2 separate regions of the Homo sapiens genome follow, and region 2 is linked to region 1. The links come from fine-mapping of genetic effects on gene expression. A gene starts in region 1. The other region holds a variant in brackets. All regions are shown on one strand. Distances are from middle to middle. Region 1 holds the start of PALMD (palmdelphin). Region 2 overlaps PALMD (palmdelphin).

Evidence for each region. PIP is the estimated chance that this variant, and not a neighbour inherited with it, causes the effect.
Region 2: its variant is fine-mapped to the expression of PALMD in tibial nerve (GTEx, PIP 0.97). The same link has a PIP of 0.9 or more in left ventricle.

What each region holds. Positions count from the first base shown.
Region 1 is chr1:99,635,850-99,652,020 of GRCh38, reverse strand. It overlaps PALMD (palmdelphin), which reads right to left and starts at 5,908. Exons shown (of 8, transcript NM_017734.5): 1 at 5,659-5,908. The coding sequence starts at 5,703.
Region 2 is chr1:99,669,470-99,685,640 of GRCh38, reverse strand. All of the region lies in intron 3 of PALMD (palmdelphin), which reads right to left. Among named protein-coding and RNA genes, the nearest start is that of PALMD, 31 kb to the right of the region's middle. The variant C/A (reference allele first, on the strand shown) is at 7,594.

The DNA of each region.
Region 1 (16,171 bases):
CTCACAATTCTTTTTCTTAGGAGATGTCCATTTTATTCCAGAGTTGTTAGCGTAATTGATTAGGAATAGCTGTTGTAGCCCACTTTGCTATGTTACATCATCCTGTGTCAATCACTGATACATTTAATAGATTGAAAACTTGATGCTTAGGACAGAAGCTAGTTTTGAGTTCCATTCAGAACTCCTGAGGATAACCTAGCTCTACCTCTTAAGTGGCTTGACTGAATCCTCTCAGTCCCTGGGATTTTATGTAAAAACTTTAAGTATAGATCTCATTCAAACTGCTTTGATGATGTTTTAGGAAAATGTGCATGCCACAGGGTTCTGGGTAAGGGAACTTCTTAAGGTGGTAAATTTTCATGGAGTCTCTTCCCAAAATGACATTACTATCATTTAAATAAATTAAAATATTCTTATTTCTTTTTAAGAGAGGGTAGGTAGTTAGAGACTGCAGATTAAAAAGTGGAAGTCCTATTGCAGTTTTAGAATTGAACTGTGTTGCATTTGTTTATACTCTGGTTAGTCTTAGATGCTTATTCTCTAATTTGTTTTAATCACAGTTTTCTAAAGAAGCAGCTTTTCCTTTCAACCATCCAGTAATGTTCAGAAAGTTCATGGGGATCTTTGTCAGTAGAGGAGTTAGCAAAGTAGCATTATCATTTTGTTGCACAGTGGAAAAACCTTCCCCAGTTATCAAAAAGCAGTTTCCTTAATGAGCTATCAAAACTATTATACCTCATCACATGGTGTCCTTTATGGGTGGGCTGTTATGTTTGGCAAAGAAGTGTGGCGTACCACATTTGTTTGAAGAAACCTTTCCCTCTCTGGAAGAAACATGTAATCTTGGTACAGCACTGTGGAAAATTGTGCTGAGGTTTCATTGTTGAATATTCCAGAATGGGACTTTTTTATTTAGAAGACTGCTACATCTTCATGTACCATCTTCATGTGAATTTCTTTGGAAGCTCCTGACAAATTAGAAGTTGTTCCTCTAACTATGTCTTAATCATGAGGTATGTTGGTTAACAATGGGGCATTATGCATTCTTTGGCCACTAGTACTTTAAGAATTCCTTAGAGCTCTAAATAATACAATGATCCAAACACGTGTTAGGGTATGCCTTTGTTAAAGACACAGACTAGTTTACACTTGTTTTTACTCTCTTATTTGTTCAGATAGAACGAATAAGGAAAAATATGTATGGCCAGTCTGGAATACAGAAGCAGGGCTGACTTCTTGGGTTTGTGACCTGTGAAGTCACCCAGGTCATCATGCTCAGAAGGGCCTAGCACTTAGATCAAAGCTCTGTTGTCACCACCTTGACATTTTGAATATTTTTTGAACAAGGGCCACCACAATTCCCTTGTGTTTTGGGCCCCACAAATCACACAGCAGGTCTTGCTTTTGGGTCACTAACTGTCTTACTGACTGTTAGAAGAGCCCAGATATTGACAAAAAGGGAACAAGATGAGGTAGAGTGCCCAGAGACACTTGTAACAGGGAACATGTGCTAAAGAAATAACTAGAACCCATCCGTGCTCATGTTCTTGTTTTAATGTTGGTCTTTGTACTGTGGAGATTTCTGTTTTATGTAAAGAACTCCATGTCTCTTAAATTCCTATATTTACAAGTCAAGAAAAATTTATTTGGGTATTTGGGAGTGGAAAGCAGTAGGGAGTTGATCAGGGGAAATGTGAGAGCTTTTTTTTTTTTTTTTTTTTTTTTTTTTTTTTTTCATTATGAGCAGCTTTGGCCGGCAAAATCTGGCTCTGTTGCTCAAATTCCAGTGTCAGGACTTTATATGGCTCCTTTCCAAATGGAGGCAGTCCTAGGCAGGTGCTTGTACTTGTGATTATTTTTATTGTCTAACTTTTGACAGAACTCACCTCCTTCACATCTAGGCTCAAACGTCACCCTCTTTGTGAACCCCATCCTGACCACTCTATTTTAACTTACAATGCACTCCCATCCCCACTCCTCACATTCCAGACTCCCCTTATTTCACTTCTTTTCATTTAAATGCACAAGGCTTGGTGCATAGTAGGTGCCTAATAACCATTAATTGAATAAAGGCATGAGAGACTGTGTTGATAACACACATTCCTTACAGTTAAAGGTAAGCCTGGAGGAGAATAAAAATGTCAGCTTTCTTCTTACTCTCTTTTTCTCAGTTGAGTCTGTTCTCTGAAATTGGATTCTAGTTCTTAAACTTCCTCTGAGTTCATCCTTCAAATAGAACTGAGTCTATGATCGCAAGACAGTTTAAGATCTAATTTTCCAGTTTGAGCATATCCATATTTGTAATGGTATTTTCCAATGTCGCTGTAGGCATGGGGGTAAGAAAATGTATTAGCTGTGGAGGAGATGTTAAGAGTATACGGAATGTTACTCATCCTAAGGGAATCTTTGTGTTTCTGAGGAGAGACCCCTGGGCCTTTTCGTTGTTCTTCAGTGTGGGCCACGTTCACTTTCAGACAGTAACTCTGTAGGGATAACTCTGTCAGTGGTACGTTCAGTCCTTCATCTCACGCTTCTTCATCTCACTCTTCTCGAGAATGCTGGAGTCATTGGTATCCTCAGTTCCAGTATTGTTAAAGGTGAATTTCAAATTACTAGTCTATTTCAAAATACTATTGAATTCCAATTAGCTCACCTTTTGTAGAAAGATCAGCTATTTGTTCAAGTGTGTACTGACTTGAAAAGGGCCTCAAGAGACATTTTAAAGATCAAACATAATAGTTAATTAATTTTAAGCAGCCCTGTGTTTAAATTATAGTTGAAAACTGAACTTCTAGGCAAAGGGGTACTTTGACCATTAATTTAGTAAGGGAAGAGTTGGTGCATGGATAAAGTATTAAGGAAGAACATGAAAGTAATTGTGTAAAATAGAATCTATATTTGGTATACCCAAACTGAAGTATCTACCCTTGAACAATTGTTTCTGCATACTTTCATAATTTTGCTCTTATTCTCTTTAAATCTTTGAGAAGACATCTGACTAATCTAAAATTCAATTTACTGATCTGATATGAGAAATGAATGGCATCACGATAGTAATTTAGTTTTCAATTTGAGAGCCTAAGTGTCACATTTCAACTACTTAATGTGTTTAACCTTTTTTTTTTTTTTTTTGAGAAAAAGAAAAAGACTGGCACTTGGATCTTTGTTCTGTCAAATTCTAGGTATATACGTTTATTTTTTCAGTTCTTTGCAGTGAAAAATAATGACTTTTTAGGCACTTGAAACCAGGTAGAATAAATACAACTGTGAAGATTATTTTATTTTATAGCCAGCAATTGGAGAAACGAATTTTAATGTAAAAAGCAAATAGATCCTAGAGTGTAAAAGTTTTTTTTTTTTCCTCCAAAGTGAGGTCTATGTGTTGCTATGTCTGGGTGCATTGGGGAATTGCCTTCTGATTTCATTCTTGAAGTATACAAAAAATTATTTCAGTGTAGGTAAGTACTAGGAAAAAGCTAAAATGAGAAGATACTCTCTGAGTTTTAGTCTAGGTTGGAGATTCTGAGGCTTAAGCATTTCCAAAAATGAAATAATTCTTGCAAACTCTCTGCATACTCTGTGATTTTATTTTCCTAGGGGGAAAGAGACTAGCTGAGGTGGCTTCCTGGGCAAGGCAAGGGCGAGGGCGAGGAAAGCTGGCGTGTCCCAGGGCGTCCAAGAGGGAGGAGAGTGGATGTGTTGTTTCCATGGACACACCACTGCTCCACTTTTCCTCTAGGTGGTGACAAATGTGACTGGATTTAGCCTGGTGAGGTGTAGGCTGGTTTATGAGAAATTTGTTCCCATAAACTTTTTCCAGTTTTTTCCCTACAACCTTTATACAAGTATATTACTTCCAAGCTAGAATTACTTTGTGATCTTACTTGGGAGATTTGTTTAATCCTTTCTAATGGGATATATTTAGGCTGATGGAATAATCCAAAAATTTTTTTAATCATCAAAAAAGCATACATCTGCATATTCAGGAAGCTACTTACTCTCTTGATGGCTTTTAAGACATTATGAGGATTTTCTGTCTCTATTTGCGTTTGGAACCTTCAGTGACTAAGATTCCTAGCCTTAGAAATAACTGTATACAGCCATATCTTTGGAACATGTGTGGCTTTGGTAAGAGTTATAAGGTACACTGGAGGGAAAAAGGGCTTGAGCGAGGGTGTCCCCCAACTGAAAGAGGCAAATTCAGAACAAGGGTCTACTTGTCTATTTCAATTAGCTAATTAGGAGATATAAGCATTAGAAATAGTGGAGCCTGTGACCACACAACTCACGCAGTCTAATAAAGTAACCTTTAGACAACAGCTGTAATGTAAAAGGCCCATGCCAAAAACAACAGAGCAGAGCCGAGTTCCTGTCCCTTAAAGCAGGACAGCTGAGATGGTGGCTGAGTTTAATGACAAAAAAGGACAAAACAAAACAAACAATAATCCCGACCAAGGTTTTCTGAAGAGAGGAAAATGTAATAATTAGAAGCTAGACATTTAACAAAGCATTGTTTTATGGAAAAGTGCCAACCTTATCAATAGACTTCTGGTGTCTTACTATTGGCTAAGAAGACATTTCAATTTACTGAATGTTTCCTGGGTGAAACTAAGATATTGTATCAATTAGTAAAAAATCTAAATTAGGATTAGCATAATTAGTTATGCAATGAAAATTTTAAGAACAACAACAAAAAATCCCTGATCTAGCATCAGTTTTTAAAAAGTACTCATTTTTTTCCTATACCTAATGTCAGTGGCAGAAAATGCTGAGAAATTGGGATATTGCTTTCCAAAGATCTTTTTCTTCTTAAAACAATTACATCAAAAGTTATAGCTAGGGATAAATGATTGTGACACAGATTTCCAAGTTACTGCCAAATACAGGGTTTTATAAAATTAAAAAGAAAGCTGGATCATTTAAGAAAAGTAATTTATTTCTGGCTTTGACTTTTTCCCGGAACAAACATAAAAAATGTACGATTTTCCTTCTCGGTATTAACAAAATATTTTCCAAATCCACTGCATGCACTGCATTCCTTTATCAGGATCTTATTCAGTTTGTGACTCTGCTGGAAACTGATATCTTAGAATTAATCTGATACGTGCTTTTACCTAGTTTTCTCTTGTTTAATGCTTAAATTACGTATATTAACATTCATTTTAATTATTTTAGGCTTTCTGGAACATGCTACCACACTACAAATATAAAGTTTCAGGTCATTTTTAAAATTTCTTTTTCTCTCTTTAAAAAAAATTCTAACTTTTTGAGGCATTCATAGCTTAAAAAAGTTTCCAAGTTGGGGATCTGTTTTTTTATCTAATGCCAGTCAAATGGACATTTAAGGAAAAACTGCATTTCTAAGGTACACCACAGAGTGTGAAAGATAGTTAATCAGACTGCCTTAACAGCTTTTGATTGTTGTTTAAAATGCAGGCACAGCCTTTTTGAAAATCAAGAACGTTTGCCCTGCACTCAGGTTCTGAAGCCCCAGAGTTACAGAGGGTCATGAGGGTTAAGAGAGAAACAGAGACTCGTCCATGAAGGCTGACAGTTCTGTTTTTCCACTTGCGAGGGCTCAGCGACAGGGGCAGCCGGCCACGGTCTGCCTTCCTCTAAGTAACAACGTTAATGAGTTATAACTGTATGCAGACTTACTGTGATGGCCTGGAGTCTTCCCTTCACCAGCTCAGCTTCTTCCATTCTAGAAGTCAAGGACAGTCAGACGGGGAAGCAAGTCCAAAGCTACCATAAATCAAGGAGCCTCCTGGGGGAGAGGAGCGGGGGTGACAGAAGAGAAGCAGGGAGAAATCCGCTCTTTGCACCAGTGGAGAAATAGAGAAATTCCCGACTTGTCAGGAGCGTCTCCGAGCAGATGCACAGATCAGGCCAGACAGACACATGTAATGAGGGTGTGCTGGGGAGGCAGACGCTGAGGCTGCTGGCATGAGTTGACTGACAAGTTTGAACGGCAGCGGCACAAGCCCTTTTCCTTCAGGAGCTGCCAGCTCTTTGTTGTAATGTGCACAGTTAGCAAGGCACATTTTCTTATTAACTGTTCCTTACCCAATTCATTATTTTCCAGGAGTGGCACAGAGAGCCAACACACTGAGTGTTTAATCAGCCTCTGCTCTAGCAACACACAGCCATCCCCGGATGTGTTGGTCTGTGTGTGTTTGTACAAAGCTCGTTTACCTGCTTGCTAGCTCTAGGGGAGAGAGCCTTACCTTGACTGAGGCAGAAGTGCCAAGTCACTTGTTTGCCTTTCTTCCACTGATTGGATTTGATAATAATACAACAATCTATAGCTACTTTAAACTTCATGTAGTGGTAAATTTACATTGGTTCGTTCTCCCCCGTCTACACCCCACCCCCGACCCCCCTGCTCAGCACTTTGTTGCAAACTTTGGAATCTTTAGGTCATGGAGAAATCAAAGGTGTTAATGTGACTATATTAAGAAGTTGGCCCACCAAGGTATTTAGTGTGGCTTAAGCACCAAGTGCCACCTTTTGTTATTGCTTGACTTGGATTTCTATGGAATGCAGTTTTCTTTCTTGGACGCTGTTCAGAAATGACACTCTTGGCTTTCAGGAAGGTGCCCATTTTGACCTCACCGGTTACGCAAGAGAGAGGAGTGAGCCTTTGAAAATGTGATGAGACATTTGGTAACTGCCTGGAGCCCGGCACTGTGTGAATATTCGCCCATCCTTTAGAAAAAGGCAGGCAAGCCCAGTGAGACTCTTAGGTCAAAGCAGAGGCTGGGAAGCTGTACAATTGGCTCTGTCTGTTTTCTTTTCCCTACAGGTTCTTTAATTAAATTTTGCTGAAGTAAATCCTAATTACCAACTACCTTATTATTATGTGTTTGAATGCTATTAAGCGCTTTCATATCAACATTCAGCTGAAGAGGTTAAAAGGACAACCCAAACATTGAACATATGGTTTAATTTCCTTTGCAGTTTTGATATTAGTAATAATAATAGCTAATATTTGTTGCATTCTTTCTACAGGTAAATGCATACTTGCAAAGTGCTGAGAGATAAGTGCTATAATCCCTACTTTAAAAATGAGGGAACAGGCTCAGAGAGGTAATTTGCCATATAGCTAGTAAGTAGCAAAGCCAGGATTGGAACACCAGCTGCCTGACTTTATAAGTGGCATTCATCAAGGACTGCCCAAGGACACGGGGCAAGGAGAGGCACAGGCTGAAGGTTAAGTCAGTCTTTATGAGAAGTGGTTGGACCCCCAGCCTCCTTCTCTGTCTAGCTCCTAGAACACTACAGCTGGGTGTAACAGCCTAAGGCAGAACGGTGTGGGAATGTCCTCTGGAGAAACTTATTGGCCCTACTGAGGTTTCCCCACATTGTTGACTGGAGTTCCCCAACCACAGAGCCCTCATTCTGTCAGTCACTATAAGGTGAAACCCATGTTTTAAGAGTCTGAAATTATACTTGAGAGTAGTTTGTCCTTGCTCATACACCCTCAGAAGGGATACTTAGGGAGACCAGAGAATGGGAGGATTGTTTGGATGTGTGCCAAGTTTGATTACTGTTGGAAACATATTTAAGTGTAAAAAAAATCAAACCTTCAAGACTTCTGATTATGTTTATTTGTAGATCCTGGCTGAAATTAAAGACAAGAAAGCAGTAATGATAAATATCTCAGTCAGAATTGCATATTTGGTGCCTAGAACAAATGGGCAGTCATCCAATTATTAGTCTGGATCTTTTCCTAAAAACAATTTACCTCTCAAATCTCATTTCTGCTAGAGGAAAACCCAAGATTTTGCTAGTGTAGGGGAGGACAAGATTTAAAAAAAGAGGATGGGAATTTAGGAGGGAGCAGAGTTGCAACAACTGATTGGTATCATCATGTGAGTGGTAGGCAGAAAAGGCTGGAGCTGGGAAAATCTGGGGGACCTGAGTGGAATCCTGGAGCCAGAGCTCTGATGGTCTTGACAATCTCCCTTGGACTGCAATACAGATTAGGATGTTTCCACTCAACTTCGCCTCCCTTTCTCTTTCACCTGCCTCTTAGACATGTCCAGCTCCAGCCTTTTCTGCCTGTCCTCCCATGTTCTCTCATACAGTCATTTCTCCTAATAAAATTCTGTACATTTAACCCATCTTGGCATTTGTTTCTTATAGGATCCAGAATAACATCATCATTTCCACATCTACTGTATTTTGTTTACTTAATCTTTTATTGTCTACCAGAATGTAAGTTCCAGGAGAGGAGAAATTTTGTTCAGACACCTAACACAGTGCCTGACACATCAGAGGTTCTCAATAAATATGTGCAGAATGAATAACAAATGCTTAAAAAATTAACAAGTATTAGTATTGTCAACTAAATGAATGAATAAACACATGATGAGACACATCAGTTGTCAGCAACCAAAGTAGTCCAGTGTTTCTCAGGAATTTTAGCATTCTTGCCATGCTCAGTCACTGGCTGGGAGTAGCCCCTGGGAAGCATAGCCTTGAAGCAAACATAGGAATGGATTTCAGAGTGAAACAGCTTGGGACTCTTGGGTCAATTATGCTCCTGGAGTTCAATGTCTGAGAGGCACTTTCTCATCAGCCATAGTGATAAATGCTATGGAAAGAAAATAGAGCAGGGAGGAGAATAAAGATGGCTAAGGCAGGGAATGTTGCAATTTAGAATTGGGTCACTAAGGTAGCCTCAGTGAGAAGGCAATATTTGAGCAAGGTCTTGAAGAAGAGGTGAGAGTTCGTGATGAGGATATTTATGGGAAAAGCATATCAGGAAGGGCCTGTGCAAATGTCCTGTGGTGGGCCATACCTGCCATGTTTTATGAACAAGGCTAGTGTGGTTAGAGAGCTGGGACTAAGAGAGGGTTAACAGGAAATTTGGTTGGAAATGTAACAGGTCCCAATTCATGCAGGGTCCAGTAGGCCATTGTAAGGACTTTAGCTTTTAGTCTGTGTGGGATGAGAAGGCATTGAGGTGTTTTAAGCAGAGGAGTGTTTTGCAAGTGTGAAACAGGAAGACTAGATAGGATGTTATTACAGTAATCCAGATGAGAGATGATGGTGGCTTGTGTCAAGGTGGTAACAATGAGAGTGTTACCACCTTGGTTGTACCATGGTTGTACCATGGATAACTTTTGATTCTGTTGGTGGATTGGATATAGGGGTTTAAGAGAAAGAGAGGATTCATAATCACTCTTTGCCTGAGTGAATAGAAGTCGCCATCAATTGAGATAGTGAGGTTGATGAACTAGGTTTTTTTTTTTTTTTTCTTTTGAGGGAGAGGATGGATACCAAGTTTTGGAAAAGTCAATTGGTTCTCCACATGGAGATGTTGAGTAGGCAATTGGATATACGAATTTGGAGTTCAGGAAAGAAGTCTCAGGTGGATTTATAAAATTTATTGTAACTACGGAAGGATCACAAAACATCCAGAATTATAGTTCAAAAAGCAGTATATGTTAGCGAACTAGCTTCCATTAAATATTAACCTTATATTAATGACCAAATTCAGCCTTTGTAAAATAGATATATAATAGAGCACTATCTGCTGTCATTTATCTTATTGAACTACTTTTACCAAGTATTTTTGTTGTTTTCCAGCCAGTGTAAACGAGGATGGCAAGAGTTAAAAGTTACAGTCAATTAGTTGACATTATATTAGGAGGTAGGGATATAAGCGATTATGAGACAGTGCTCCTTCTTACAATGAATTTACTGTCTGGCTGGAGAGATAAGACGCGTGCTCAAAACAATTAGAAGACAAAAGAATAGTAAACCAACCGTTGTTGTATTCCGATGAAACAAAGTGCTAACTATTGCACAATTTGAGCCCAGAAAAGTATATCATAGTGAATGATAGTAGTGTGTGGGATTAGCAGTGAGTGCAACATGAATTGAAAATTGAGGTTAATGTGAGTTGCAGGAAAGCGACTGCAGGGAGAAAGTAGACTTTAGAAGCAGAGAAGCCATTTCTAAGCATGAGAGGGGGTGAAACAATGTGTTAGAGGTCCATAAGGGAGAGTGTCCTGTCTGGAGCAGAAAGGAGAAATTAGAGAGATTGATAGAGATATACATTTATACATAGAACTTGATGTTCAGGGAAAGTGGGAGAGAAAAGATCAGATTCATATTTTAGGGAAATAAAACTGCCAACTGTCTCAGAACATATAGAAGGAGGGAAAATTCAGGTAAAGAGATCCATCAGGAAGGGTGACTATGAAAGAGTCTGTAGAAAGAGCCTGTAGAAGGAAACTAAAAAATTGCTGATGTTCCACAAAAGGAAAGGTCCCCAGTGTTCTTCCTCACCTTCAGAAGGTCTGAACTCAGAGACCACAAACTGGATGAACATGAAGGACAAAGTAAGTAGAGGAGAAGTGTTTAAGGTGCTAATACAAATGTGTTAGAATCCAAGGGGGATGGCAATGGGAATGACCAATAAGGAAGAAATCTACAAGAAATTTCAATAAGAGTGTTCAACTGGAGAGAAGGATGAGAATTTGATAGGTTCCAAATGAAGTACAAAATAGGAGCTTGAATTGGAAATTTCAGATAGAAAATCACAAAGAAATGAAATCTAATGAAATAGTGGCAGGAGAAAATTGAAGGATGCCGAAGGCAGGATGTATATGTTGAAAACATCTCTAGAGCCTTTTTGAAACCAGATCCCGTGTTAAAAAACTGGATGCTCATTCTCCTTCTCACTCTTCTCTCTTTCTTTCTCTCTCTTTTTCTTCCCGTCTTTCTCTCTTTATAACTTCTCAGACTTCTGGAGGCCAGAAGTAGTGTCACGCTAAGAATACGGTGTTTATTTTTTATACGACATCTCTGAAGGAACCATTAGAAAAATCTTCACTTTCAGATTTACCATGTGCTAATGAGTGTGTTTCTATTTTCTTTTGTTTAATCCTTGACCCTTATTCTCTCACATCACTGGACAAGGTGAGTTTTTCATCGACCTTTTATTCTTTAGTAGACCATTGGAAGGGATTTAATTGCCATAGGCAAGTAACAAATAGTATGTGAGTAGGTTGACCACATAAATCAAATTAAAAAATCTGACCACATAAATCAAATAAAAATTATTTTGATTTGTTGGTACTATAACATACCCATTTCATTGTGAGGTAATTTGAGCTTTATGGTTTAAAGAGTAAATGAGGAAAAAATAGTAGGCTTCAAGACAATCTACAGTACAGATGCTTATCTTACTTGAACTCTCCATGACACTGGGCAGAGTTAATCTCTCCTTCTCTCTTCACTTGGCTTCCAGGACACCTCTCTTGATTTTATTTCCATGTCATTAGTCTCTCCCTCTCAGCCTTCTTTGCTGGTTCTTTCTCCTTTTCTCAATGTCTTAAAATTGCAGTGCACTAAAGCTGCAGTTGTTGGTGATCTTTTCTTTTCTATTCCTTTCCAGTCACTCTCAAGATCTCATTTACTCTCATTTTAATGCCATTTAGATGCTAAGATTCATGCATTTATTTATATCTCCAGCCTAGACTTCTCTTCTGTGCTGGAACTCCCTTACCTTAGAAATCTGTATGCCTCATTCTCTCACCTTCTTAGGTCTTTGCCGAGATGCTACCTTCTCAATGAGGCTACCTTGACTACACTATACAAAACCACAAATCCCTCTTTCTGAAACTACGAATCCTCCTCATCTCGCTCTATTTTTTTTTTTTTACCTTTGTCATGTTCTGTAATACTATATGACACACTTTTCTGGGGGGTTTATTGCCTGTCTTCTTTCACTAGAATGCAAACTCCATGCAGAGAAGGTCTATTTTTTATCTGTAGTCTAAGTACTTAGAGCAGACTGGTACATAGTGGACACAACAGATAATTGTTGAATGGTAATCATTGTGATCCATTTGATTGCACAATATGTGTCAAATGCCTTATAGGCCTACTTAATGGATTGGGGAAACTGACATTCAAAAAGATTAACTAATCTACCAATGGGTGATATATCTAATAAGCAGTAAAACCAGGATTTAAATCTAGAACTGTCTGGACAAAAGGTTCCATCTTTATTCACCATACTATCCTACCTCTATTTTTTCCTTAGTTGCAATGAGACACCACAGCACAAGGTTTAACCAGACGTAGAATACAATATTATGCATGATTCACAAATTCAATCATTTCGATGATTTGTGGAATTGATTTTTAAGACTGGAAACAGTTTACAACCACTTTTTGACATTTGCTTAAAGATTAGAATATAACATTTTGTAAGCAAACAGAGTCCACAATCACTTTTTCTTTGAAATTTGCTTGAAGCTTAGACTATAATTTTTTGTAAGCAAAGTATTCCAGAGATAGACCACTACAAAAAAAATTCTACTTGCATGTAATCAAATAGTGTGTGTGGTTAAGCATGCTGCTGTCTCTTTAAACAGCTATGCAGTGCTTTCCAGCTAAGTCTCCTAGAGGTCAAACAACTGCTCCATTTAGTGGAAAAGGATATTTAACTAAACCAATTGACTTTTTAGAGATAAAAGGTGCAGCTGTTTTCTGAACACAGCCTAAGTTATCTAATATCCTATCAAAAATAACCACAGATAAAAAATAACCTATTACCAAACCAAGCACACAGCAAAGTCTCCCCAAATACCCATCAAACAAATTGAAAATGTTCTATAATTTATTTCCCTTCTCATGTCCATGTAACATGAGAAACCAATATTTAACATATTTGAGATCTTACATCTTAGTTTCCTCTGCCTCAGTTTACAAATGGACATGAAAATAATCAGCATCATAGAAAGTATTAGCATAGCTTTAAACTGGAGAAAAAGCAGGAGGCTAAACAGTCTGTAATTATCATTCCACAAAGATCAAGTGCTATAGGGTACCTCAGCACAGTGCATTTTTCTCTATCAATTTCCCACTTACACGTCCACACCTTGTGGTGCTTTTATACCCTTGTACAGTGTGTACCATACAGGAGGATGAAAAAGACCATCTAGGTTGAACTTTAGATGTATTTGTTATGAGTAAGAGCATTCAGTGTGGACCATTTGCCTTATTCACTTTCCTTCCTTTGTTAGTAGTGTAAGGAAGCCGCCCTTCCCTCAGCATTGTTTTCGGATTTGGGTGTATTTAAAAATGCTGTTCCACTGTGATACCTTTACTTGACACTTTCATTTTTAGCCAGTCAATTCAACATAATATTTAAAATATTTGGACCAAAAAGTGTTCCTGAAATCAAAAGCATTTTGAATACGTTAATAATATGTGGTAGTGCATACTAAACTGGATGTTTAAATTATCCAGGTTGCTTCTGTGTGTGCTCAGCTGTTTTATGAGCTTTAAAAATGTGGGCTTTTTTTGATTGTTGTTTTGAGGGTTATTTCTCCTTTTCTCTCAAAGTTTGTGATTTTAGTTTAAAGAGTAACTGATTGTAAGTTTTAGCATTTGGGTAGTTTCTGCCCTAGATTTGCACAAAGAAATACTAAGTGGGGTTTCTTCTATCAACTGAACTTGTTGCATTCCCTTTTTCTCCTTAAGTTTGAATCTCAATTTTTGTTGGTATAGCAAAATAAATACCCTCAAATTTATATTGATCTCATAAATGCAAATAGAGAAATTAAAACTGATCGTTGAGAAGCTGCCTTGCCTATAAAGAAGTCATTGATTCTGTAGCTCTACTAGACTCCCAAATGTAGATATGGACCTAATATGTGTATATAAAATACTTACATTCCCCCATAAAGTCTTGAAGAACAATTTGGCCGTCATAGGAATACAATTTGGAAACTGAATATGGAATTGTAAAAGGATGTCACCGCTAAGTGGAAACCCAGTACTTTGAGTTCTGATCACGTAGTCATTCATCTATCCATACATCACGTAGTGATTAAATATCTGTTGACTCTGTAACTGACATCATGCTATGTGCAGAAATAAAGATAAATAAGACAATGAACTTTTTTAGTGGAGAAGATAAGAGGTACACAGAAGACAAGTTAATACTGCATTAAAAGTGAAAAGTTCACCAAAGTCAGAATCAGGACAAGGAAGGCCAGAGTTCAGAGAAGTCATCCTAGCAGAGATAGCAGTTGACCTGAGCGCTTGAGTCTTTCAGATTTGGACAAGTAAGAGTTAATTAACCAAGAGAATGATTCCGGGATAGGAGGTATAGGGAAGTAAGGGGGACACGGCACAGTCACAGCCCCTGAATTTCTAGATCATTATAGATAAACTGAATAATTTTTCTAGGTGCAGAATTTTTAGTAGGTAATGGAATGACATCTTACCAAATTGTCCATGAACAGGCTTATACATCCCCAGGTTATTATGTAAGGTATGTGATATTCAAAGACTCTATGTGTATACATATATACACATATATATTATAAATATGTTTGTGTCTATTAATGATCCTTAGCTAATTCATGTACATCAAAATCTTGTTTCTCTTCCATTAGATAGTTAATGAATGTAGATGGTTTTGGAATCAGAGGTACTGGCTTATTTTCCAACCTTTCCATTTAGTAGATGAGTGAACTCAAGAAAATCACTTAATATCTGAGAGAGTGCATTTTTTCAGGTGTACAATGATGGGAATAAGAAATATGTCAAAAATTTTTTTCATCAAGATTAAATTAGTATTTAGGTAAAGATGGTAATAGGCTACAATAAATGCTTAATAAATGGCAACTTTACTATTACTATTTACCTTATTGTACAAGTCCAGTTCTTAGAAATGTATATTAAATCTTGCAGGCATATTATTATTTCTTTCAGTGCTTTTACATTTGCTGAATGCCTCTTTTAACATATATAACCTAATACTGCAATTGACTTGTTTGGGAGAAAGACCAGAGTCTCATTCTTCCCCACGAACCAAGAAGCTACCAGATATCTTCATTTCCAGTATGAGAAAACTGAGGCATAGATGGACTGACTGATTTGGGCAAGGAGCCAATTCATTAAATAATAACACTCCTTGTCTTCCCATTAGATTCCCTATGGAAATCTTGGAGGGCTCGGTCTGAGGTCTGATTCTTTGTCATTATGGAAATATCGTATAAGATTATCCAATTAGATTGGTTTCTAGGCAGAGCCATCACTCTGAAGGCTAGGGTGCAAGCCAGTTATGTTAAAGTGGATTTACATGGCAAAGCAAGAAATGAGCCAGCTGTCAGTGTGTCTGCCTTTCAGTCCATTTCACTATTAAGAGTGAAGGCTCTGAGGTTTCATTTACCAACAGATTGGGTTCCAGACAATTGTAATTCTAGCTTGAAGATTTTTGGAAATAAGTATTTTGAAAGATGCCAACTGAAAGTTTACTTCCAAAATTTTTAATGGCCTCTCTTTGGAGAGATGAATACTTTGTAGGGGCCAGGGTTTATTGCATGCCTTAGATAGGCTTTGAAAGCGAAAACTAAAAAATAAAACCACACATTTTCCATCTAGGAGTTTTACTCTTGCATAGTGTAAAAAATAAAATATCTTTGTTATTTCATCATTAGATCTGTCATGCAAAGTGAAATTCTTTTGGGTTTATAGCCTTCCTTCCCCTCCCCTCCTCTTTCTTTTCTTCCCCTCTCCTTTCTTTCCTTCCTCTCCTCTTCCCTCCCCTCCCTTCTCTTCTCCCTCTTCTCCTCTTCCTTTTGGTGAGATTCTAACTGTAGGAGTTAGATTGCTTAATGGGTGCCCAGGGTAAAGACTGAAAGAATTACATTATGCAGTGAAGCAGTGGTGTGGGCAGGGTGAGATTTAAAAGAATATTAAGTTCCAAGAAATATAGTTGCCACAAACAGGTCTGTAGGAACTCCTTTAGAGCTGGAGGTTAATTAGAGTCCTTACTTCCTGTGAAATTTGAAGGCCTAGAGCATAGCCCAGATAGTGACATAGGGAGCTGCCACTTTGTACCCACATTAGTTGGCCATCAGCCACTTAAAAAAAAAAAACTCAGCAACAAAAATATTCCTTTGTATGTATTTAATTTCAACCTCATAACATAAAAAATACTTCAGAGAAAACATTTAAAAGCAATTTAAGTGTAAATTTCTTTCTGAGTGAAATTCCAAAGAGCAGTCTACTCTTCCTCACAGGCCTTGGAATTCTTAAATATGAAATCCTAAGCTATTTTGGTATTGCAATAGTAACCAGCCTTCTAAAGGGAGTCCCTGAATAGAATAATAACAGTAATTCAGTTGAGAAA
Region 2 (16,171 bases), 34 kb before region 1:
GGCAGCTCAAAAATGCTGCACTATTGTCACACCAGTAAAAGCCCAAGATGTGGTCAGCTTGACAGCTCTCTTGCTCATTGCTTCAGTTTCAAAGTTCTTACTTTGCTGCTGCCTCTGGCCATTGGTAGATTGCCGTTTATAACTGAGGAGGTTTTCTTGTATGCCACAGACCTCTAAGTGAAATGGAGTAGCCCCTGGTTTCTTAGAAGTGACTGAACTGTGACTGCCATTTTATTAAAATTCCTCCACATCCATGGCAGCACTTTTACCCTTCAGCAGAGCTGTGGGGATATATGTTGGTCCAATTTGGTAAAGGGGAAAGCTCTGCACTAAAAGTGATAAATCTGGATTCAATTCTGTCTCTGCTACTCATTTCTTGTGAAAGCCAGTTCCCCTAACCTCTCTGAAACTCTGTTTTGTAATGTGTGTAATGAGCATAATTACAGATTACGCTCATTACCATATACAGACAGATATGTGGTGACACTAAGAGATGATGTATATGAAAGTACATTGAATATGGTTGATATCAGATGTAAATATGTTATGATATAATTTTTAAAAGTTTTCTGCAACATACTGTATGTCTTTCTTTTTTCATCCCCTGTCCCACAGGGTGCTTACCTAATTTGCCTGTTAGAGACAGTCTACAAAGGAAAGCCTTTTGGTAGAAAACAAGAAGGTTCAAATCATTGCTTCAAGCAGCTCTTGCACATCAGGGCCTAGCTGTGGAATCAGGTGGACCTGGGTTTGAAACCTGGTTCATCTGCCAGCTTCCTGTGTGACCTTAGACAAGTCACCTGACCTCACTAAGACTCAGTGTTGGGCTGAGAGAAGTGGCTCATGCCTATAATCCAGCACTTTGGGAAGCTGAGGCAGGAAGATTGCTTGAGCCTAGGAGTTAGAGATGAGCCTGGACAACATAGTGAGACCTCAGTCTCTACAAATATTAAAAAAAATTAGCTGAGCATACACCTGTGGTCTCAGCTACATGGGAGGCTGAGGTGGGAGGATTGTTTGAGCCCGAGTGGTCGAGCTTGCAGTGAGCCATGATCATACCATTGCACTCCAGCCTGGGCAACAGAGTGAGATCTGGGCTAACAAACAAACAAACAAACAATAAAACTCATTGTCTTTATTCATTCATTCTTTTAAAAATATTTACTTAGCATCTACTTTGAACCAGGCACTCTTCTATGTGCTGGGGATCTTACAGTGACCAAAACAAAGTCCCTGAGCTCAAGGAGTTTATGTTCTAGTGGGAGACAATACAGGGGCTGGCAACCTTTTTCTATAAGGGGCCGGATGCCAAATATTTTAGGTTTTGCAGTCCACATATGCTTTCTGTTTCTTATTCATCTTTTTTCCCCTTTTTCTTTTACAGCCTTTTAATAATATAAAAACCATTTTTAGCTTGTGTCTGTACAAAATCAGGCCAGGGCTAGATTTGGTCCTGGGCCATAGTTTGTCAATCCCTGCATTAATAAATGTGTAATACAAATATGTATATATTGCAGATGTATGTACATACATATATATACACATAAACACATTTATTTATGAAGAAAAAATATTTTTGATGAGAAAAGCAGGATAGGGGCTGTAAACAGCAAGATAAAGAATATAGAGAAAGCCTGAGGAGGGGGCACTATTTCACACAGTGTGGTGAGGGAAGTTTCTCTGATAAAGTGTCATTTGAGCAGAGACATGAAGGAAGTGAGAGCGGGAAACATGAGGGTTTCAAAGGGAGTGTGCTCCAGAGAGATGGAAGAGTAACTATAGAGAGCGAAGGAAGAGCCAAGAGAGTAGAAAGGTGAAATGAAGTCAGAGAGGAGGCAGATGACCAGATAGGCAGGGCCTTGTGCATGGAAGGGCTTTGGGGAAGCCACTGGAATTTTGAACAGAGAGGAAACATGCTATGACTTGAAATGTAAACAGTTACACTGGCTGCTGTGTGGAAAATAGACTGGATGGGGCAAACATGGAGGTCAATTGTGCTAAAAATCTAGATGAAGATGGTGTAATCCAGGTTGGTTGCCAGTAGAAGGGTGAGAAGTGGTTGGATTCTAGAAATATTTGACAGAAAGAGCTGTCAGAATTTGTTGATGATTACATGCAGGGGATAAGAGAAAGGGAGATGTCAAGGTGATTCCACTGTTTGTGACCTGAATAATTGGAAACATGCAATACAATTGGCTGAAGAAATCTGGGAGAGAGAAGAAAGGGGATTTGTGGGGGATGTGTTAAATTTGAGACAATCAAGTGTGATATGGAGAAGACAGTTGGATATACAAGACTGGAGCTCAGAGAAGTCTGGGTTTGAAGATATACATTTGGGAGTTGGTATTTATCACCACAGGAGTGGATAAGTTTCCCTAGAAAGTGAAGGAGATAAGAATTCCAAGGCCTGAATCTGGAGCAATTCAACATTTAGAGATCTGGTCAATGTTAACAACTTCATAGGGTGTTCGTTTCTTTCTTTCTTTCTTTCTTTCTTTCTTTCTTTCTTTCTTTCTTTCTTTCTTTCTTTCTTTCTTTCTTTCTTTCTTTCTCTCTCTCTCTCTCTCTCTCTCTCTCTCTCTCTCTTTCTTTCTTTCTTTCTTTCTTTCTTTCTTTCTTTCCTTCTTTCTTTTTGGAGACAGAGTCTTGCTCTGTCACCCAGGCTGAAGTGTAGTGGTGCAATCTCGGCTCACTGTAACCTCTGCCTCCCAGGTTCGAGCGATTCTCCTGACTCAGCCTCCTGAGTAGCTGGGACTACAGGAGTGCACCACGACGCCTGGCTAATTTTTGTATTTTTAGTAGAGATGGGCTTTCACCATGTTGACCAGGCTGGTCTCAAACTCCTGACCTCAAGTGATCTGCTTGCCTCGGCCTCTCAAAGTGCTGGGATTACAGGCATGAGCCCGATGACTTCAGCTAGTTTCTTCCTGTCTCTGCCCCTTTCTTTTCCTGGGGCATAGAGACAAAGCTCCTGGTCTGCTTGGCCAATGACACCTTAGGGAATTTTGAAATGCACTGGTGTTTGTTGTTGTTTCTCTCTGAAGATAAAGCCGTGGGTAATGTAATGCCATATGATTCATCCCAAGAATCTCTTTAGACTAATATGGTAAGAATATGAGGTTGAAAGCCTGCAAACCTCATCAGCGTATCTGTTAATGAATATTTTTGAAGGTTTTCAAGTCACTGGATGAAAGTTGCATTAATAAGTCGCTGTGGTCTCACAATACATCATGACATGTTTGTGAAAACTAAACATAAACAAACACCTCCCTCCCATTCTTTATCCCTTAGTCACAGCCAACTCTGAGTTGAAAAGGATAACTAGGAAACATCTTGGTACTAATTACTTAGAATCACAAACCTCTAACAGGAGATGCCTACTGATGTAGAACATTTCCTAAAATTTCCACTTCAATGCAAAACTTGACTTCTTATTTTTGTATGTTGATTTGATACTTCAAATATTTATGGACAATATAAATATCAGATGAATGTTAGAGATTTGCTGCTCTAGAAAAGCTTTCTAAAAGATCAGAATGCTAATGGAAATGATGAGAGACTTAGAAAGCATAACTGAGAGTAAGGAACTGGATGCTCCCAGAACCCCCGCAACCTCCTCCACTTGGTCAGAAGTCAGCAGTAGCCCAGCAATGGAGAAGAGGAGGTTTGACAACCTGTACACCAGATAATGCACTGAGTTTTTGAGGACTGACTGTCCTTAAGGAGCATAAAACAAAAATTGCAACTAGTAGGCAGGGCAATTTTTGTGTATCTAGTACAGTGGTTCGTAACCAGAGGCGATTTTGTTCCCTGGGGATATTTGGCAAAGTCTGGAGACAGTTTTGCTTCTCATAACTTGGCGAGGGTGAGGGGTGCTGCTGACATCTAGTGGGTAGAGGCCAGGGATGGTGCTGAATGTCCTGTCATGCACAGAACAGTTTCCTCACAACAAAGAATGATTTAGCCCAAAGTGTCAATAGTGCTGAGGTTGAGGAATCCTGGATACCTAAAAGAATGCCTGGTATAGTGTAAGTTCTTGATAGGTACTTTATAAGGAATTTGTTTATATCCATTTCTTTTATATTTTTATTTTTTTCCTCATTATTCCTTCCCATTCCAAGATACATATACGTTTGTGTATCTGTTGTTTTTCCTTGTTCAATGACCATTCATAGTTAAGAGAATATTCGGCCCTGATTTAAAGCTTAAACAATGCAAGACTTAAATTAGGGACTCATTCCTAATCCCTTCCCAAAGGTAGTTTTGGGGAAGAGAAAAAATTTGGCAAGTATAAATGAAGTATTGGGAAAATATATAGGATGGAATTTGAAATCAGATATTTACTTACAGAGTCTGAACTCTTACTCCTCTCCAATTAGCCACTATAGAAAAAATATATATATTCCTTAGGGTTATTTTGTTGTACTGGGGATTTTTCTGCTCAGCGGGTTAGTCCATCTAACAAGGATTAAAGTCCGGGCTCTATACATATATATATATACATACACACACACACACACACACACACACACACATATATACACACACATATATGTATATATATAGTCTATTTGCTGGGGAAAAAGAGGGTTATTTTCAAGAGCTCCTTGGGTAAAAGCAGGTAGCTTTCATTTCATGAACTGTTGCAGGAATAACCTCCCTTAATCATCATGAGATAATGTCTCCAATCCAATTCCAACATGCAATTTTTTGTCTTGGAAAAAAGGACAGCACATAAATGCTGGATGCATCAGGAAGAGGTTTTCCAGAAGGCAATATATATATATATGCATATATATACACACATATACACATACATGTATGCATGTACATAGATATACACACATATATGTGTATGTATGTGTGTTTATGTGTGGGTGTATATACATATATATGTAAAATTAAAATTTTTTCAAATGGAGAGCTTTTGGGGAGGTTACTGTGGGGTAACTCTCTAACTTTCACATGCCTATCTTTCAGCTGATGGGTTAGAATTTCCATAAGTGCTGCCGTCCCCATCTTTAGAAGGTATTACCTTTCAGAATGGGAATTGAGCTCCTTGAAATGCTGATTCAGTTTGGTGAGGAACAGGCAGCAGAGAAAGAGAAATATCCTCCTTGGTGCCTCCCAGGCTGTTAGGTGGGGCTTGATGGATGAGTCAGTACCTCTCACAATTTCTGAGAGATGGTGGGCAGGCATCATGTGCCAATTTAGATAAGCAGAGTACATGAAAAAGGATTTGTAATGCTATCCATTATTGGAATCTTGCTTTTCCTTGCCTATTCACTGGGGAAAAAGAGGGTTATTTTCAAGAGCTCCCTGGGTAAAAGCAGGTAGCTTTCATTTCATGAACTGTTGTAGTAATAACCTCCCTTAATCATCACGAGATAATGTCTCCAATCCAATTCCAACATGCAATTTTTTGTCTTGGAAAAAAGGACAGCACATAAATGCTGGATGCATCAGGAAGAGGTTATTTCAGAAGGCAATTTTTCTGCTGCTAAGGGTCCATTTATCTCTCTCAGCTTTTGGTGGAGTTAACAAGGACTCACAACCTGATAGAGTTTGCCATTAGGGGCCAAACAGATTGGAACTCATGAGGGGAAAAACCACACAAACCAAAATTCAAAAGTCATCATCCTACCTTTCAGTACTTCATGTGTTAGCATTTATAACATTTAACACATATTGCATATTTCCATTGCACCAGGCACTGGCCTATTTCGTCCTTACAGCAACCCCCATGAGCACTGTTGTTAGTTCCAATTGACAGATGAGCAAGCTGGGCACCTAGAAAGGCAACCGGCCCAGAGTCTCACAGGCAGCCTGAGGCAGGATGGAATTTGAAATCAGATCTTTACTTACAGAGTCTGAACTCTTAACTCCTCTCCAATTAGCCACTGTAGAAAGAAAACTTAAAAAAATTGATTCTTAGGAGCTTAGACACAACATTCATTTAGCTCAGCAGTATTAAGGGATTTTTTACTTTCTATGATAATGAAGGAAGTGAAGATTGAAATGATAGCTGGGGCCCACGAGTGTGTAAACGTGTTGACCCATTATATACAAAGGTAATATTTCTGTCCTAATCTTCGTTAGGGTTATTTTTCTGTACTGGGGATTTTTCTGCTCAGTGGGTTAGTCCATCTAACAAGGATTGAAGTCCGGGCTTTATCTTTTTTTTTCCTTTTGGCTGCTTGACTTTGGTTCTGGTAGGAGTTCTTAGAACGGTCTCCTTCAAAGAATCTGGGGTTTCCTAAGCTAATGCCACTTTATAGCAAGACTTTCTTTGCTTCCACACAAGACTGTGTTGTTTAAAGTAATTAAAGCAGTAGGTCTTAAATATAAAGCTGGCTAATGCAATTTGATTGTATTACTGCAGTTTCAATGTAACTACCAATGCTAGGTATGAAATTAAGTTTATGACTGGCTCTTATCTATACTTTGAAGGGACTGATGAATTACTTGCGTTTCAGTAGCCCAAACTCTCTTATTAAAAGCCAGGACTACACCTAAAGAGAGGGTCCAATGGCTATTTCTCTGGGATGGCCTGAGTCAGCAGGTGTTATGCCACTACTGATGTGCCTCTGAGGCCGGTCGATGGAAGTGCTAGGACCAAACCCCCACCCCCAACATTCCCCAAGCTAGATAAAGAAGGATTTTTTTTTTTTTTTAAGAGTCAAGGTATCCCTGTATTGCCCAGGCTTGTCTTTAACTCCTGGGCTCAAGAGATCCTCCCGCCTTGCCTTGGCCTCCCTAAAAGCTGGGATTACAGGTGTGAGCCACCATGTCCAGCTGGATCCAGTTTCTTTTGGGACTCACAGGCTCTCAGAGTGTCTTTGCCTCTGATAAGTATTGAATTCTGCCTAGAGTGGTGAGCAATTCTAGCTTGATTCTCCCCTAGAGATTCTCTTCCCTTTCTTCCCCACTAAATCTTGGGAGAACAGGAAACAGCTGGTGGTTTACCTATATTTTGTGAGTTTTTTTGTGAAAGCCCACTTTCTCAGGGGAAAAAAAGACTTTTTACAGCTCTACCCATGGAAACAGAAAATGAACCCATCTCAAAGCTAATACACTTGGCTTAATCATTTAACCCCTCCAAGCTTTTTTTCTCATTTAGGGAATAATAGTAGTATTCACTAAAGGTTGTCTTAAGGAATTAATTGAGGTAATTGTTCATAAACCCCTACAACAGGGCTTGATGTAGAGGAGTTCCTTAGTAAAGATGAGTTACTGGGCCAGGCGTGGTGGCTTAGGCCTGTAATCCCAGCACTTTGGGAGGCTGAGGCGAGTGGATAACTTGAGATCAGGAGTTCGAGACCAGCCCGGCCAACATGGTGAAACCTTGTCTCTACTAAAAATACAAAAATTAGCTGGGCATGGTGGCACGCACCTATATAATCCCAGTACTCGGGAGGCTGAGTCAGGAGAATCGCTTGAATCTGGGAGGCAGAGGTCGCAGTGAGTTCATGCCACGGCACTCCAGCCTGGGTGACAGAGTGAGACAGTCTCAAAAAAAAAAAAAAAATAGAAAAGGACTTACACTTTTCTCCTTCTTAGTTTGCTTGAGAGAGGAGGACCACCTGTGACAAC[C/A]CCATTGGAAGACAAAAATCTAGCAGGTCCATTTGGGTGTTTGATCTGCAACTTTAGCAAGCATGGTACTAATATAGATTCAGGGACACACTTGTCCTTGCAAATACTGATCTAAACAGAAAATCTCAACAGTGATCCAGCATGATTGGAAGAGTTGTAATAATATGTATGAGGATGATGTCTATTTAGTAAATGTGAGCAGAAAGAACATCCTAGTCTTTTTTGACAACCTGTCGTTTCCTCTCTCCACACCCCATCCCCAGTCCATTCTCCTTTTGTTCTTTTTAGTGATAGAATGCCCTGAGTTTTATACGACTTCCTGGCTACCTTGCTATGGACTACATTTCCCAGTGTCCTTGGCATTCAGATGGTACCATGTGAGTAAATTCTGGCCAACAGGGTATTAGCAGAATTGACATCTGCAACTGTCAGGTCATGCCATTAAAATTGAACTGCTTGTCCTCCATTTATCTTCCCTTCCTGAAGTGGAATGCAGATGAGGTAGTGAGCTGGCTTTGACTGTATAGCCAAGGGCATCCCTTAGGAGGTAGCAAAGCAACAAGGCAGAAAGAAATAGGGCCTCTAGATAACCTCATGTAACATTGATGCTCTCCTCTGCTTGAATGTCTACCAGTTAGGATTTGATGTATGTGAGAGAAATGAACCTTTCTATCTCATTTAAGGCACTGCTCTTGAGGACCCTTTTAAAGTGACAAAACCCATATGCTGACTATTGTGTAACTTTATGGGGAATGAATTGTAGTGTGACACATTTTATGAGATTTTTCATAATTTTTTTCATTGATTTGCAGAATTACTCATTAGTATCTTGCATTTCAGGTTGTTAACTAGAAAAACAGAAAAATTAATCAGTCTTTGCTCTCAGTGGTTAAAGGATTTATGTGTTTCTAAAAAATGTATCAAATCTGGCATGATATGTGTTGACAGCTGGCTACTACTGAATGGTTAAGGTTTGCAGTGAAAAATGAAAGGTCTTTTTACTTTTTTAAATCATAACTCATCTAAAATAATCTCTCTGGAAATTCAATGGCTATTATTGAGTACATACAGTTGACTTTAGTTATCTTGACTGCAGTGTGTTAGTCATATGTAATAGGCAGATAAATTACTACTGATGGGTCAGAGGTTAAAGATATTTCATCTTTGTAGATAATTTGGCCAATGGTAGTGCCAAACTACATTTTCTTAATAAAGTTGAGGGTCATGTAATATATTAGAAGGTGAGCTTTTTTTTTCTTTTTTTACTTTTTAAAGTTGGGGTTTAATAAATTTCATCAAAATATAACAAACCTTTATTAAGGACCTATTATATGTCAGGCATATTTTCTTCACTAAGCTGAAATAAAATCATTATCTTAAGTGAAATAACTCAGAAACAGACAAATACCACGTGTTCTAACGTATAAGTGGGTATGAAGTAATGTGTATATATGGACATATAGAGTGGAATACTAGCCACTGGAGACTCAGAAGGGTGAGAGGGTGGGAGGGGTATTAGGGATGAGAAATTACCTAATGGATACAATGAATATATTGGCTGATGATTGCACTAAAAGCCCAGACTTCACCACTATTCAGTGTATCCATATAACAAAACTGCACTTGTACCCCCTACATCTACAAAAATTTTTAAAAAGTGCGTATCAAAAAAGATGAAGAATAATTCAGTGCATAGACAGTAGGTGAGAACAAAAACTATCCAATATGGCTGGTGTCCTTAAAAAAAAGGAAGAAGAAGAACTGCCTTAGAACCAGCCATTGTCAAAGGGCATGTGTATAATAAGGAAGATCTAGCCTACTAGTGCAAACTGTCACATGCTAGTGGTAAGCATGCCAGAGAATTAAAGGGCATTTGGCATACAGCAAACACTAAGTTTGCCACAAGTCAGATCTATTGCCTCTAATCCTGAGCATTTAAGAATAGGACAAACAATACAATGCAGCAGTTTTAAGATAACAAGAAGCAGAGAGGCAAGGGAACAATGACATTAAAACAAGCATTAGTTTGCTCTGATGGTTGGGAACAGAGCAGATGTTTAGAAAGCTGACTGATTATATGTGAATAGCTTTTGCATGGGTGAATCTCATCTCCTAATATAACTCTGCAAATATTAATAATTATCTTATGGGCAGATGATAGTATCCTAATTTGAAACTGCCGTGTAGGCATGCAACGTTAGAAGAGAGTGATTTAGTAGAAAAGCAAACCCTCTTAATCAGAACAATATTTTGCAAATTGAGGGTTTCATTTGCCATGAAAAATAAGAAACCAAACTGGTTTTCAGAGAATCAGCCACTATCATGCACAAGTTATTAAACAAATGTCATTTTCAAATGAATGCAAATAAACATATAGTCTCAAGGTTGATGTGATATGAAGGATTGGTTTGTTATGGGCTTCTCAACTGCTCTGGTGGGACAGAAACTAGGTGTGTGTGTTTTTAAATTAGGGCTTGTAGAGGACCTTGTAGTACATGCCAAACATTTAATAGGAGTGAAGTAATTGTAATAATTTGACTTGTACCCAGCTGTCATGAGTTTCCCAAGTGACCATCAACTACTGTTGTGGCCAGGACATGGCAAGTTAACTGAAGATATACTTATCCATGATTCTGGTAAGCCTCTTTTCTTTTCCTAAAAATAAATTGTAGAGAAAAACATTTCTATGAATAAACTACTTGTAATTATATAATGAAATGGCAAAAAGTATTCAATGATGTAGATAGTGACTCTTTCCTTTCAGAAATAATTCCTGGCTTTGTGCCTTGGTAACCCTTAACATTTATCCCTGACTATATTATACAGCAGTCACTATATTTTCTATTTTTTATCTACTTCATTTTTGCTTTGTTTCTTGATGTTAACTGTTCATATTTGATACCAAGGAACAGGACTCTATTGTTTGAAGATCAACAAATATAAATTCCAATCCTAATAAAACATAGAATAACCAACAAGAATCAGATAACCTTGGGTGGTCTAAATGGACGAAGTGACATTTGCCTTATGGCAGACAAAAGATGCATCGCAAGGGGGTGGGTGTGGAAGTTTTTTGAGCTGGTAAAATTAGTCACGGGAAACTCTCCTGCAGAATGCAGAAGTCTAGGCCTGGTGGCAGGCAGCACAGATCCTTTCTCTATTACAATGAGTCGCTGCTCTTGAACATTCATCCTTTATGACCAAGGCTTGGAGAACGGGTCACTGAAACTAATTCACCTCCCACTTTCTGGATTGTTCAGTTGCTCCTTTGTTTTGTCTTTACTCATGTCAGCACAGCCAAAGATTTATGACAACTCTGCTAATGGTGTCATATTTGTATTTCAAGGCACTGAATACCATTTGAAGTGAGATAATAAATGTAAATGCATTTTGAAAAGTTAAGGGATTTAAAGAGAGAAAAACAAATTTTTTTTTTTTTTGGGTGGGAGTTTATATGGAATCTTCTCTGTAAGACTCAAAGACTTACATATGGCAAGTTCTCAATAATGTTCATGGAATGAATCAAGAATAAGCAGTGTGAGGTCTGGTGGGAAGGGTCTGGAGTCAGAAAGACCTATGTGTGACTCCTGGCATGACTGTTGCCAGATTTATAGCTTTCTATGATTTAGTGTCCTTATGTACAAAATGAGGCTAATTAGACTTCCCTCAGAGAATTGTCATTCTCAGAATAGTGCTCCATAAAGAGTAGCTGTTGTTAAATAAATTGAAGTGGAGTGGAGGGAGGACCCTCAGAGTTTATTGCAATCTACTTTTCAGCTTATCATGGTGGGGGCCAGTAACCATTTAATCTTTATTTCTACTAACATATAGATGAGATTGGCAGGTATGAGCAAGAATGAATGCTGAAAGGTCGGGATAAGGAAATAAAAGGGCATATGGAGGAAGGGAACATGGAGAGAAAGTAAACAAAGTGCTGGTGAGATGTTAAAACATGCCATTGATAATTGTTTAAAAAACCAGGGCACTACTACCATTTAACTTTGCCCTTGACTCAAAATAGCTGGATGTTTATTCTTTTCTTATTTTTAAAAGAGTTTCAAGGCTTTCCTTTTCAGTTCATTAATGTTCAAGTCATTATCTAGGCTTCTTTAGCTGGTCCTCTTAGAAAGGTAGTATTTTTAAGTACTAACATTCATCTATACGTCATCTATTTTACTCATTCATTCACTTATTAAGCTATGTATTCACAGGTATTCCTACTATGTGCTAGGCGTTGTACTAGGGGCTTGTATGTGTGTGTTTCGGAGGGTTGGAGTGGGTAGACTTCTTCCCTTTTTTGCTTTTAAGTTTGGTTTACTTGGCTTTTTTTTGTTAAAAGTGAAGCTCCTGAATTAAAAATAATCAGACTATCTGGGAAATTGAAAACAACAACAGATGAACTATTACAAATCTGGTAAACCAATTAGTCAAATATGGAGAGTGAAAAACATGCTTGGAACGATTTTGACTCATGTAATTACCTTAGAATAATTTCTTGAGTGTCTCTAGGCAACAGCAAATTTAATAAGAAACAAATGGTAGAGTTTTTTTTCGCCTCTTTTTTTTTCTTATGTTGTCATAAAAGAGCAGCTTGTCTATCTCTCTGCTATGTGGTATTAGATACGGGTTAGGGTAGGAAGGCAGAAACATCTAGAATGTAGTATTTTTCACGTAGCATATCTCACCCGTGTTTGAGGAAACATTAGTTTCATTAAGGTACAATTGACCTGCACAGGTAGTTAAAAGCATTAAGTAGGGGTTAAACTTGGATGGAAATAATAATAAGATAAACTTTGATAAATGATAACCAGTAACAAAAAAATTTAACTTTTATATTTCTACATCAATGTTTTGGGTTCTCTTTTGAATTGAATTTTGCCTGCTCTCTTTTTAGTTAATTGAGTAAATTATTGCTTTACATGATATTGAGCAGAATGCATTTTCCTGGGTTTCAGCTCCTTTTGTGGAGGAATTTTCCTTAAGTTATGTGGGATGTGGCTATAGCTGCTGTACCAGCCCACTTGGCTTTTCTCATGACACGTAGTCACACAGACATCCAAGGCTTCACATACACCTTTGCCCATTTGTATCATCTGTGGAAGGCGGTTTCTAACTATTTGGGGGACAAATGAAAGTTCATTAAAAGAAGGCAGAAGGTCAGAAGGGCACTTTGGAGTATTAAAAAAAAAATCCGTGCTAGAGAACATTTAATCATAAGTAGCTTATCCTTCCCAAAGGGAATGCAGTGTATTTGCATCATTCTCCTCGGCAGTTGACCTTTTACATTTCATGCTTATGACATTTCTGTCAGGCGCTCTGTGTGCTCCAATTAAAGTCAGAGGTCTTTGGACACAGTTCAAGAAGTAGAGTGTCTGGCCGGGAGCTTGGCACAGGGCAGTTTGGCTAAGGGAGGTCATGGACAACTGCAGGGCAGCTGGATAGGAAAGAAGAACCCAGGATGTGAACAAGTTGCTGGGGGCATACCTCCTATGGAGACTTACTGGGGGTGTCATTTTGGGTGTGGGCTATTGGATAGAGGAGAGCAAGGAAAGTGTTAGGACAAGATTTCTAAACCAGGTATAAATTTGTGCACATGGATATTTGGACTGAAAAATCAGTGCACCTGTGCCTACAATCAGGCAGTAAATGGTTCAGTGGTCGCAGTAAGCGCAGGGCTCTTTTGGGAGGCAAATTGAAACTCTATTTAAGCAAAGTGATTCAGAAGGAGACGTTCAATATAGGCTTCCCCTGGGAACATTTCCTCCTAAGGTATTAATCAGGGCACAAGGCAAAATACTCCACAATATTGTTTGAAAGCTAAGAATGTAACTCAGAGACAGAAACCATGGAAACCCACTTATTTTCTGAAATGTTGCCTCTCTTTGGAGGAGACAACGACAGGATGAATAAGCAGATATGCTTTACTTAAAGGTTATGTGTGAGTCAGGGTACCCTCTGAATGTCTTTAATATGTTAAATATTCAGGTAAATGTCTACATAAAGTGGTACACATAAAAGTGAAATTGTAGCATAGATTGGAAACTTAAAAATGCTATAAAAGTATAGAGTTTACAGCATTTAACATTTGTAAAAAATTTCTACAGGCTCTGAGGTGCAATTTTATTTTTATGATTAGGACTTTTAATTAGGTTTTAAATCCTGGCTCTTTACGTTTTGCTGTATGACTTAGGGTGAGTTAGCCTCTGTAAGTGTCAATTTTTCTCATCTGTTAAATGTTACCTACCTAATAGGGTAGTTGTGAGAACTCAATGAAATAATGTACATGAAATGTTTAGCACAATGCCTGGTCCACAGCAAATGTTCCACAAAAATTAACCTCTATGGTAGCATTCTAGACTTTAAGCCATAAAAAAAATCATAGATTATTTCCAAATGGAAAGAATCCTCATTGGTTGGTATTCTCAGTTTACTCCAAGAAAAACACTCTTTGTACTAGCATAAAGAAAGGAGAGAACTTGGCCAAAAAATAAAAATACCTGGATAAAGATCCGTGCAGTGTTGTTCTTCTAATTTCACCTTTTAGTAAGGACTAGTATTTAATATTTTTTGTACACCTCCATGTGTCAGGCACTCTGTATTCACAGCAGTCCTGTGAAGTGGCTATAACTGTCTCACATTACAGGCAAGGAAACTGAGGCTCAAAGAAATGAAAGAACATGGCCAAGCCTGTGTACTATGTCAGCAGAAGAGGGATTTGAATGCCAGAGGCAACGCTATTTCAGTTCATCTTACAACGCCTTAGAAGTAGAAGGAAAGAAAGGTTCATGGGCAAAGTCTGGCCCTGCTATGGACTCCACGGTAATAGCAATATTTCTACTTTGATGTTCCCATTAAAATCTTATCCTCTAGCTGAGGGGGCCTGGCAGAGTGGCAAATGTCACCCTCGAGCAGGCACGTAAGTCAAGTGATAAATCACATTCAGAGTTTGAGTTACTTTCCCTGCTTAGGGATTGTGAGTGGGTCTCCCTAGTTCAAATTCATCAGTTGGCTCCATTGCTACTCAGTGCTAACAGGAAATTGTACTGATTTAGCTGGTAATAAGAGCTTCTCAAGCACTGTGGGTACTTGTTTAGGAGAAAGATTGAATTTAAAAACATGCACCTGATTTGTTTTTTTGTTTTTTTGTTTTTGTTTTTTTTAGCAGCTTTACAAACATCTGAGAAGAAAACGTTCCATTATCAGGTAAAGCTGCTTTGGCAATGTGATTTTTATAATGCTGGGCAGTAGGGGAGGTTGCTTAATACAGACAAGGCATAGATATTTTTTCTCTGTGTGTTGCTTTGGAACATTCTGTTGCTGTTATATTTTTAACCAGATAAACCTGCCTCTATAGGTCACAAGAAAACAAATTCTTTACTATTTTTTTTTGCAAATACATCTTTTTAGGATCATTCCTTAAACAAAGCAGTTTGCTGATTATTAGAGATACTTGTCTGTGTTAGGTGTTTTACTATTTCTAGAGCATTTGCATTTACAGCTCTCTTCATTTTTCAGCTGGAGAGCACTGAACCTGGCTTGCTTTGAGATCTAAGTCTACCCTTTACTGACTCTGTGGCCTTAATTAAGTCACTTTCTTTCTCTGCGCCTATTTCCTCATCTGTGAAATGGAGGTGTTGGCACTTTCTTTCTAGGATTGTTGTTTTCGATGACTTAATGTAAGTTCAAGTGCTTTGTAAATTATACAAGTTCCTTTAAAAATGAACCATTACTATTATTATTACTTATATTTAAGGACTAAACTCATTTGGTATTCACAAAGGAGTATTGATGGATTTAGCATCATGAAGATCTAAAAGTTGTAGTGAGATGCGAGAAATTGGGTAATGAACAAACATGGAATCAGTAATTTACCAAAGAGAATAGGGGGACATAGAAGGAGACCCTAAGTGTGGTTGGAGATTTTGGAGAAAGGAGAGCAAAGGGACAGAACACACTTCAAAGATTTTCTATAAGAGAGAATACCTTTTCAGTCCACAGAGGCTGCTGTGTGCCATCATTTCACAGGCACTGTGGAGTAGTCAAATGAGTCAGTCCCTGACCTCCCACTTCCTAGTTGTGTGAATTCCTTAACTTCTCTGAAAGAAGTGAAGGTAATAATACCTACCCTCACCGGGTTATGAAGATTAAATGGGACAATATATGTAAAGTGCCTGCTGTATACTATGGCTTATTAAATCTATCTCTCTCTTCCTCTCCCTCCTCCTTCTCCTTTTTAATTTTTGGTTAGGAAGGAGCTCTAACTAGACCAGCCACTGTCAATACTTCTGGGAGCTCGTGTGCTTCTCAGAGCATTCAGGCAAGGCCTAAAAGCAATCAGTAGAGTCCTGGTTAATACTCGGATTACTCAGAATGCTGCCCAAGCCTGTTAATGGAGTTTGAGTATATGTAGCCACTTCAATTATCATCAGATGCAGAGAAAGTTGTAGGTGTTCAGTGTGTGGAAAGACTCTAAAAGGAGGTTTTGAGGGGAAGCAAGTAGGTGTCTGTGCAGTGGGAAAGGTTTACGGGGATTAAATTCAGGACTCCTTCAGAGATAAGGGTTCTGTGTTGAGGAATA